Linked DNA regions of Homo sapiens: region 1 is linked to region 2. The links come from fine-mapping of genetic effects on gene expression. A gene starts in region 2. The other region holds a variant in brackets. All regions are shown on one strand. Distances are from middle to middle.

Region 1 (5,385 bases), 46 kb before region 2:
ATGGGAGGTAGGCTAGTGGTGGTGGGAAAGGCTGGAACTGCGGGGTGACTAGGTAAGCAGTGACCAGATCAGGACTTTGCATGTCATTACCAAGAGGATGGACTTTAATCCTCCTGGTCACAATTTCTGAAGCCATTCCTAATGGGAGACAAGTGTGATCTTCTATCTACAGGAGTGAGGCTATGGCCCAAGAAGCCCTCCAAAAACATAACATTGTTTTATTTCCTGTTTAACTTAAAAAAAAAAAACCCACTGCTATTGTGTGTTCTATTTCATAGCATGTTCAGTGGCAGGCAGATGGTCTTCATAGGTCAATCCTTGGTTGAATAATTGTAAAATGGATGACATTTGGAATAGTCTCAATCTACTTCAGAAAAAACCATTTCCACCGGGTGCGGTGGCTTATGCTTGTAATCCTAAGCACTTTGGGAGGCCAAGACGAGTGGATTGCTTGAGCCCAGAAGTTCAAGACCGGCTTGGCCAATGTGGTGAAACCCTATTTCTACTAAAAATACAAAAATTAGTTGGGCATGATGGTACATGCCTATAATCCCAGCTACTCAGGAGGCTGAGGCACAAGAATCTCTTGAACCTGGGAGGATGAGGCTGTAGTGAGCCAAGATCACACCACTGCAGCCTAGGTGACAGAGTGACACCTTGCCTAAAGAAAACTAAAAAAAAAAAAAAAAAAAGAAAAAAAGAAAAAGAAAAAAACATTTCCAACCACTTGAACCTTTTTTTTTTTTTTTGAGACAGAGTCTCACTGTCACCCTGTCGCCCAGGCTGGAATGTAGTGGTGTGATCTCGGCTCACTACAACCTCCACCCGCCTGGGTTCAAGCGATTGTCCTGCCTCAGCCTCCTGAGTAGCTGGGATTACAGGTGCATGCCACCATGCCCAGATTATTTTTTTGTATTTTTAATACAGACGGGGTTTTGCCATGCCATGTTGGCCAGGCTGGTCTCAAACTCCTGACCTCAGGTGATCCGCCTGCCTCGGCCTCTCAAAGTGCTGAGATTACAGGTGTGAGCCACCGCACTCAGCCTGAACCAACTTTCTGAGATGTCAAAATTTCAATATCATGGTATCTTAAAGATGAGAAACATTTCTTTTTCTTTTTTTGAGACAGGATCTCACTCTGTCACCAAGGCTGGAGTGCAGCAGCAGAATTTCAGCTCACTGCAACCTCGACTTGCTGGGTTCAAGGGATCTCCCAAGTAGCTGGGACTACAGGTGCACACCATCATGCCTGGCTAATTTTTTGTAGGGATGGGGTTTTACCATGCTGCCCAGGCTGGTCTTGAACTTCTGAGTTCAAGCGATCCTCCCTCCTGAGCCTCCTAAAGTGCTGGGATTACAGGTATGAGCCACCACGCCTAGATCAGAAACACTTCTAAAACCAAATACACGTCAATGACTAATACACTAAATTATATAACACTTTGTTTCAAGGTTTAAAAAATATCCTGGACTTTGGAAAATATTCTTATATAAAGAAGCAAAAAGAGGATGGAATAGACTTGTGCTAACACTGAAACTCCAGTCAAGTTGTAAACTGAAAAAGAACGTGTTGAAACAAGGAATTGCCCCATAGCCTTCACAGGTGAGTATGATAGATTAATGAATGGAAGTCCAGGAAACATTTCTTACCTTCACTTCAGTCCTTCATGCCCTGACTGAAGTCCAACATTCACTGTGATCACTGTTCAAAGGTAAATGCTGCAGTAACCATTTAAGCTGTTAGCAGGTTTCCTCTCGAAAAGATGTGGGGTCAAATCTTCAAATGCTAGGAGAGTCAAGGGAGCAGAGACGGTCTGTCTTGCTTCAGGGCTAGCCTTGCTTTCATGAGGTCTCTAAAATTTTCCTACTGTAAAAAATCCTACTCTCTTACCAAGAAATAGCCCAGTATATTTTGGAGAAAAACCAATCCATACACATTTTTCCCATAGCATCAGCTTTTTGTTGAAGTGACAAAAGTGTTAAAACAAACAAACAAACACCAACTAACCACAAACCAATGTGCAGAAACTGGCAAGTGAAACACAGACAACAGGAATTTGAAAATCAAACCAGAAAAAAAAAATTTAAGTCCAGGAGACATGGAAGCAATTTGATAACTCACACAGTATCCTCTTCATGTTTATAGGGTAAGACCCATGGGCCAAACTTTAATTTGTAGTGCTCTGTAAAAGTTACATGAGAGCCTGTTACACCAGAATGCTGCTTGAAAATGTTATTTTTGGTGATAACATTGGATTTTAAAACCTCCTATCTTAAACACATGACTCATGTAGAGATTATATTTTGTTATAAGGCTTCATACTTTCTATTTGTGCCTAGTCTATTTCATAGCTTATAGCAATTATTATGGGACCACAGTTGAAGTCGAAATATATCCAAAAAATATTATTTATGAATATACTAAAGTTTAGCATAATCAAGAGCTTGTAAGACTGTTACCCCAAATTAGTATTTAACATCTGACATGGATCAAAAAAAATGACACATCAAAATAGAATAGCTAGGTAGACAATCAAATAATAAGTAACATCTCAATCTTTACTAGTATATATAATACATATATATAATATATATAATACATATATAATATATATAATACATATATATTATATAATACATATATATAATATATATAATACATATATATAATATAAATACATATATAATATATATAATACATATATATAATATATATAATACATATATATAATATATATATAATA[CAT/C]ATATATAATATATATATAATACATATATATAATATATATATAATACATATATATGTATTTTTTTTTAAACAGGATCTCACTCTGTTGCAGTGTCACTGGAGTGCAGTGGTGCAGTCTTGGCTTCCTGCACCATCTGCCTTCCAGAATCAAGCAATTATCCAGCTTCAGCCTCCCGAGTAGCTGGGACCACAGACGTGCCACCATGCCTGGCTTATTTTTTTATTTTTTGTAGAGATGGGGTTTCACCATTGTTGCCCAGGCTGGGCTCAACTCCTGAGCTCAAAGTGATCCATCTGCCTCAGCCTCCCAAAGTGCTGGAATTACAGGCTCAGTCTATACTAGTATATTTACAACTATATTTTATTACAATATTTATTAAATATTGTTGTCTTTTGCTAGGAAACTTAAAAACCTTAAAGAACATCATTTGTGAGCTCCCAATTGGCACAAATTACATAAGGTACTCTACACATATTTTTATTTTCTTAACTTTTTGTTATAACAAGTGAAAAATCTAAAAATCAACTGAATAAGCTTTTATGTTGAAAAGTATACTTAAATGATTCTGGTGATCATGGTGTTCTAGTAAGAAAAATGCTTTGCTAGTGATGTGACAGCGTACGGCATATGAATAATATTTGAAATCTTGCTACTCTTTTCTTATATTCTGCCCCAAACCCAAAGGAAGTTTAAAATGAGAAAAAAGGTAAAGGTATGAAAGAACCTTTGGTGACTCAGGTGGCTTCAGACTTACCAGTCACAAAAACTTGCAAGCAGGTTCTAGGAGACTTCACTGCATCCATATATGCTGTTAATAGTGTTTTTTTTTTTTTTTGAGACGGAGTCTCACTCTGTTGCCCAGGCTAGAGTGCAGTGGTGTGATCTCGGCTCGGCTCGCTGCAACCTCCACCTCCTGGGTTCAAGTAATTCTTCCACTTCAGCCTTACGAGTAGCTGGGACTATAGGCACCTGCCACCATGCCAAGCTAATTTTTGTATTTTTAGTAGAGACGGGGTTTCACCATGTTGGCCAGGCTGGTCTCAAACTCCTGACCTCAAGTGCCCACTCCAGCCTCCCAAAGTGCTGGGATTACAGGCATGAGCCACCGCACCCGGCTTGTTATAGTCTTAAAACACTCTACACCAGGGGTTAGTAAACGTTTCCTATAAAGGGCCAGATAGTAAATATTTTATGTCACTACGCAACTCTCCACGGTAGCATGGAAGCAGCCATAGACAATACGTAACTGAATGAGTGTGGTGTGTTCCGGTAACGCTTTATAGACACAGAAATTCACTTAAAGTCCATATAATTTTCACATGCCATGAAATATTTACTGTTTTTTTTTGGGGGGGGATGGGGACAGGGTCTCACTGTCACTCAGGCTAGAGAGCAGTGGCACCATCACGGCTCAGTGTAGCCTAGACCTCCTGAGCTCAAGTGATCCTCCTATCTCTCAGCCTCCTGAGTAGCTGGGATCACAGGCATGTGCCACTATGCCCAGTTAATTTTTGTATTTTTTGTAGAGATGAGGTTTCACCATGTTGCCAAGGCTGGTCTTGAACTCCTGGGTTCAAGCAATCCAGCTGCCTTGGCCTCCTGAAATGTTAGGATTACAGGCGTGAGCCACTGCACCCAGTGATTTAATAGATGTAAAAATCATTCTTAGTTCTTGGGGCAAATAAAACAGGCTTGCAGGCCAGATTTGGCCTGGGAGGTATAGTGTAGACTGGTCCACACGATTGGAGAGTCAGCAGGCTCTTACTCTCAGACTTCCTGGTGGTCCTCACCAGTCTATTTTACAGTGGCTTCTTTATTTCCTTTCTGCCACTGTTGATGGGACTGTAGCGTCACTGCATGTGACTGATACCAAAAGAGAAAGGTTCTTTTAATTAATCTTTCCATACTATCCAGAAGATTTTTTTCAGTTTTATTTCTTAAACATATAAGAGGGCATTATAAAATGACATTATAATTATAAAAGATTTTCTTTTAAGAACAATGTTTTTAGGCCTACTAATATTACTTAATAAAAAGAGCAGATATTTAAGAGACTGTACATTTTTATTTAATAAACCACATGGCAAAACAATACTTTAATAAGTGTATAGGAAATTACAATGTGAAAGTTGCAAATACAGCACATATATATATATATATATATACTTTGATCTTAATTAACATGGACAAACCCCAGCTTCAAAATCTTTCTAAAATCAATCATATGCAAAATACCTGGTTTCTGAAAGGGCATATGATAAAGTATATACAATTTCTTAAACTGTGATATGGCTTATTTAATAACATGTATTTATTGAGAGAAGCATAAACTTTCCAAATATACAGTATCTTCCAGGTAGAAAGATGACATACTGGCACATTTCAATTTTGTGTTGCAGTTATCTGAGAATATACTAAATTGCACTATTTAAGTGGACACTGTCATAGATTTAACTGGGAAAGTCTCCATAAATGTTTTCCAATCTTATCAAAAAGCAAATTGGTCCTCAATGATTGGAACAGCAGGTTAAACCCTTTACAAGTCAGAATTCAGTGACTGGCAGGCCTGAGTGCACACATGTAATTCAATACTGAGGAACTCCCACAACACTGTCTTCTAATTTGCATGCTCCCACGA
Region 2 (5,385 bases):
TGGCCAGGGTGGTCTCAAACTCCTGACCTCAGGTGATCCACCCACCTCGGCCTCCCAAAGTGCTGGGATTAAAGGCGTGAGCCACTGCACCCGGCCGGGGTGTCTTTTTAAATAAGACACGAATGACAAGAAACTGGCCAAGAAAAGATTTGGGAAAGGCAGTCTATGTAAAGCAGTGTTTTTCAAGCTAAGGCCCTGACCTACTGCAGTGGACACACGAAATCCATTTAGTGAGCTGGGACCACAATTGAAGAAACTATTAGGATACATCACATGAAGGAAAACTTTTGTTTCAGTTATACATATATTTATACACATGTGACCTGTGTATATTCTCATACATATGTATGCATGCATGCCTAAATGAGTCACAATGTGAAGTGTATTTCTTACTACAGTGAGGTCAAAAAATGTTTGAAAGCCACTGAGATAGAAGGACCAGCCACTTTGAACGCCTTAGAGGCAAAAAGAGCTTTGTGAGTTGTAAGAGGAAAAAGAAGACCAGCATGGCTGAAGCGAGCCCTGGGGAGGAGTGTTATGAAAGAAGGTAGGAAATGTATATAATTTTTCCCACATAGAACCCTCCAGTCAAACATCTTAAATCTGGACTGCCACCTGTTTTTGTCATGGTTCATCATTTAAGAGATGACATGTAAGAATCATCTCCCTGCTTTTATGTCACTTTGTAAACTGTCACTGAGAAGTTAGTAGTTATACTGACGTGATTGAAAATAACCTCTAAACTAAGAATGTATCTTATATTGAGAACGGATTGTTCGTATAATTAAAAAATGAACAAGAAAACCAGGCTCATAGAACTTTGGCGGAGTCCTCTGGTTCATTTCAGGCCCTTCTTACGAGGCAAAAATTTCATGTTAGTTGGTAATTAATTTTGCAAATCTCTTGGCTATAAATACAAAAGGAAATCGTATAAAAGAAACCACTTAGGTCAAATGTAGAGGAAAAAAATGCTGGGACTGTAGATGTGGCTCTTCCATTAACTCCCTAAGTGGCCCTCACGACTTATTCCACTGGTTTGTGCCCTGGAAATCCTTACATGTAAAAAAAAAAAGGAGGTGGAGCAGGTGTTCAGTAAGGTCCCTTCATACTGTAAAATTCTATGATCTTAAGTTATTTACGATCATTTACTATTTTAAACGTTGCGAAAATTAACCTGGTATTTTACCAGACCTTTGTAAAAAGAGGAAGTTACATGACATACAATGAAGATAACGTCCTTAACTTTACGGTAGATGACAGTGGTTGAACAACTAGAAGAGAAAGTCAAAGTTATCTCGGGGAGTTTATATTGTACTTAGATTGAGCTGCACTTTGGAACCGTGTGGCCTTTTCACATGAGATCAGTGTCTTGATAAATACAAACTTCCTGAAAAGATGGGTTAAACCTCAAAGCCTGTGTAACTACAGCTTGACAAAGACTCTCGAGGAAAGGTAAACGGAAAGTGAGTTGGCAACACAACTCACCTACAAGTTCTCCAATCATGAAAAGCAAGTACAGAACGGCAGCAATGGTCAACCTGGCTTTCACCTTTCTCTGCTTCAGTATCTCTCTCTGTTTGCTGCAGTTGTCACAGGAGTCCACCTTCAAACTCAGCTGACTGTTGGTCAAAGGTAAGTCTTGGTCCAGTAAGGAATCATCGTCGGCCTGGAGGGTCGGGTGCGCCCCGTTAACAGGCCTTTCCGGGGCTTCGGAACCGTCATCGGCCACCACAACTCGAAGTTTGTTGAACCGAGAAAGCCCCTCGTCCCCCGCCTCATCCGAGAAGTCAAAGGCGCTGGTGTCATTTAAAAACAGCGGCGCATCATCCTTCCTTAGCATAGATTTGAGGCGCTTCCACGCGCCAGAGCCGGCCATGGCAGAGGCTGAGCGGCCGCGGTGCGGAACGGCTTGGGGGAGGCGGACGGCCGGCGGCGCCTACTTCACCGGAGCGCCAGTTCTCGAGGGCAGTGCCGCGCGTCCCTCCCCATCCTGTGGAAAACGAAACACGTTATAAATTAAAGGCGCCCAACCCTGTCCTCAAGTTCCGAAGCCGCTGGCGGCGGGTCGCAGGGCCGACCCCGACGCTCCGCCGGGGCTCCGCGAGGGGGCGGCACATCTATTTAATACCTGGGGCGCTGCCGCGGGGCCGCAACTCATCTCCCCGCCCCCGGCCGGCTCAGCGAGGCGGGCTCGCGCTGCTCCACCCGCGGCCGCAGGAGAGTGGGGTCGTGCTCGCGCCCGCCGCGCCCGCTGCTGGAGGCCGGCTCCCCAGGTCTGACAGGTTCGGGGCCGGACGCCCACAGCCACCGCCTCTCCCCGCCCTGCGCGAGGCCACGCGCGTGCGCCGGGCGAGGCGCGCGAGGGAGGGGTCGGCGCGAGGACACGCAGGCCTGGCGCGCAGGGCTGGGGCGCCCGCGATGGGCGGGGGCGCGCGGCGCGCCCCGCCTCTCGCCCCGAGGCTGGATTGGGGGCCACTGCGCCGCCTCCGCCCAGGGGTCACTCACTGGCCAACTGAGGGGACTTTGGGCGGCCTCTTCCACCTTCCCAGGCTGGGAGGCAAGTGCGGTCGGAGGGTCACGCCGGGGGCTGGGCGTTGCTGCTAGGAGTTCCCTCCACCGAAAGTGTGTCTCAGGAATCTCGGGTCGGGATCTGGGTTGCGGGTGCTCGGCAGAAGACAAACCCAGCACTTTTCTTGCTAACTGAAAAGGCAAGCAGCTTTTCTCTCCTCGAATTGCTTGTCTCTGGCAAATTGGCAACATTTGCTGCAGTCAACTGGAGAGGGCAAGGCTGTCGTCGTCAGCAGTTCTGTGTCCTACTGTTTTTCAGCAAATATGTATTGTCCTCTTTGTGCTCTCTGCCGTGTTCCTTTTGCCTCCAAGGTATTTACGATATGGACTAAACTCAAGCATAGAAAATCTAGTACAGGCATACCTTGGAGATACTGCGAATTTGGTTCCAGACCACCGCAATATGACAAAGTGAGGTCTCACAAATGTTTCATGTCCCAGTGCAAATACAATCATGTTTATAATGTAGTCTATTAAGCGTGTAATAGCGTTATGTCTAAAACAATGTGCATACCTTAATTTAAAATATTGGGAGAGAGGAAGGAAAAAGTATATATACATTTGTTAATTGCTCTGAGGAAGGAGGGTCGCATGAGCCCAGAGGTTCGAGATTACAGTGAGCTATGATTGTGCCTCCGCACCCCTGCCTGGCGACAGAGTGAGACCTTGTCTCTAAAAATAAACAAGTAAATAAAATACATGACTGCTAAAAAAATGCTATCAGCTGGGCGTGGTGGCTCACGCCTGTAATACCGGCCCTTTGGGAAGCCGAGGCGGGCGGATCACCTGAGATGGGGAGTTCAAGACCAGCCTGACCAAAATGGAGAAACCCTGTCTCTACTAAAAATACAAAATTAGCTGGGCATGGTGGCGCATGCCTGTAATCCCAGCTACTAGGGAGGCTGAGGCAGGAGAATCGCTTGAACCCGGGTGGCGAAGGTTGTGGTGAGCCGAGATCACGCCATTACACTCCAGCCTGGGCAAGAAGAGCAAAACTCGGTCTCAAAAAAAAAAAAAGCTATCAATCATCTAGGCCTTTAGCAAGTCATATTCTTTGCTAGTTGGAGGGTCTTTGCTCCTTGTTAATGGCTGCTGACTGATCTGGATGGTGGCTGCTGAAGGTTGGGGTGGCTGTGGCAATTCCTTAAAATAAGACAACAATGACATTTGCTATATTGATTGACTTGTTTTCATGAAAGAGTTCTTGATGGCGTGTGATGCTGGTTGATAATATTTTACCCACAGTGGACCTTTCAAAATTGGAGTCAATCCAGTTTTCTCAAACCCTGCCTCTGCTTTATCAACTAAGTTTATGGAATATTCAAATCCTTTGTTGCCATTTCAACAGTGTTCACAGCATCTTCACAAGGAGTAGATTCTATCTCAAGAAACCACTCTCTCTGCTTATCTATAAGAAGCAACTCCTCATCTGTTCAAATTTTATGAGATTGCAGCAATTCAGTCACATCTTCAGGTTCCACTTCTAGTTCTCTTGCTATTTCCACCACATCTACAGTTACTTCCTCCATTGAAGTCTTGAATCCCTCAAAATCATCCATTAGGGTTAGAATCCACTTCTTCCAAAATCCTGTTAATATTGATATTTTGACCTCCCATGAATCACGAATGTTCTTAATGGCATCTGGAATGCTGAATCCTCTCCAGAAGTTTTTCAATTTACTTTACCTAGGTCCATCAGAGGAATCAATGGCAGCTATAGCCTTATGAAAGGTATTTCTTCTTTTTTATTCATTTATTTTTATTTTTAGATGGTGTTTCACTCTTGTTGCCCAGGCTGGAGTGCAATGGCGCGATATCGGCTCACCGTAACCTCTGCCTCCCGATTTCAAACTATTCTCCTCCCTCAGCCTCCCAAGTAGCTGGGATTACAGGCATGTGCCACCACGCCTGGCTAATTTCGTATCTTTAGTAGAGATGGGGTTTCACCATGTTGGCCAGACTAGTCTCGAACTCCCGACCTCAGGTGATCCACCTGGGTCGACCTTCCAAAATGCTGGGATTACAGGCATGAGCCACCGCGCCCGGCCAGTCACCCAGGTTTTGTTCCATTTATAGAGCACAGGTAGAGTAGATTTAGAATAATTCCTACGGGCCCTAGAATTTTCGGAATGGTAAATGAGCATTGGCCTTAACTTAAAGCTACGGGCTGCATTAGCCTCTAACAAGAGAGTAAGATTGTCCTTTGAAGCTTTGAAGCCAGGCATCAACTTCTGTCTAACTATGAAAGCCCTAGGTGGAATCTTCCAATAGAAGGCTGTTTCCCCTGTATTGAAAATCTGTTGTTTATTGTAGTCACCTTTAATGATCTTAGCTACACCTTGTGGACAACTTGTTGCAGTTTCTCCATCAGCATTTGCTGCTGCTTCTTGCACTTTTATGTTATGGAGATTGCTTTTTTCCTTAAATCTCATGAACCGACCTCTGCTAGCTTCAAACTTTTCTTTTTTGTTAAAAAAATTATTTAATTTATTTATTTTTAAATAGAGACAGGGTCTCACTATGTTGCCCAGGCTGGTCTGGGTATTTCTAATTTCCTTCAAGAACCTTCCCATTTCCCAGAGTCAAGTGATAAAAGTTTAATACAAACAAACAAACAAACCCAAACAATAAAAAAGAACTTTTCATTTGCATTCACAACCTGGGTAAGAAAAGGCATAGTGCAGGGCATGGTGGCTCACGCCTGTAATCCCAACACTTTGGAAGCCTGAGGCAGGCGGATCACCTGAGGTCAGGAGTTCGACACCAGCCTGGTCAACATGGTGGACCTCTACCATAGTAGAGACAACCCTGTCTCTA

Which allele goes with the higher level. Positions count from the first base shown, and alleles are read on the strand shown. Sizes are in standard deviations (SD) of each study's normalised expression.
For the expression in monocytes after Pam3CSK4 of the gene that starts at base 2,277 in region 2, allele C in region 1 goes with a higher level than allele CAT (large effect, 0.93 SD a copy in Quach 2016).

What was found. PIP is the estimated chance that this variant, and not a neighbour inherited with it, causes the effect. A credible set is the group of variants that fine-mapping cannot tell apart.
Region 1: its variant is the best candidate, but not a certain one, in a credible set for the expression of SLC30A4 in monocytes after Pam3CSK4 (Quach 2016, PIP 0.70).

The regions. Positions count from the first base shown.
Region 1 is chr15:45,474,950-45,480,334 of GRCh38, forward strand. SLC30A4-AS1 (SLC30A4 antisense RNA 1) reads left to right here. Exons shown (of 4, transcript XR_007064611.1): 2 at 1,130-1,360; 3 at 1,453-1,603. SLC30A4 (solute carrier family 30 member 4) reads right to left here. Exons shown (of 8, transcript NM_013309.6): 8 at 4,657-5,385. Among named protein-coding and RNA genes, the nearest start is that of SLC30A4-AS1, 29 kb to the left of the region's middle. The variant CAT/C (reference allele first, on the strand shown) is at 2,745.
Region 2 is chr15:45,520,479-45,525,863 of GRCh38, forward strand. SLC30A4 (solute carrier family 30 member 4) reads right to left here and starts at 2,277. Exons shown (of 8, transcript NM_013309.6): 1 at 2,129-2,277; 2 at 1,486-1,990. The coding sequence starts at 1,876. It also overlaps the pseudogene HMGN2P46. RefSeq lists a silencer at 1,980-2,469.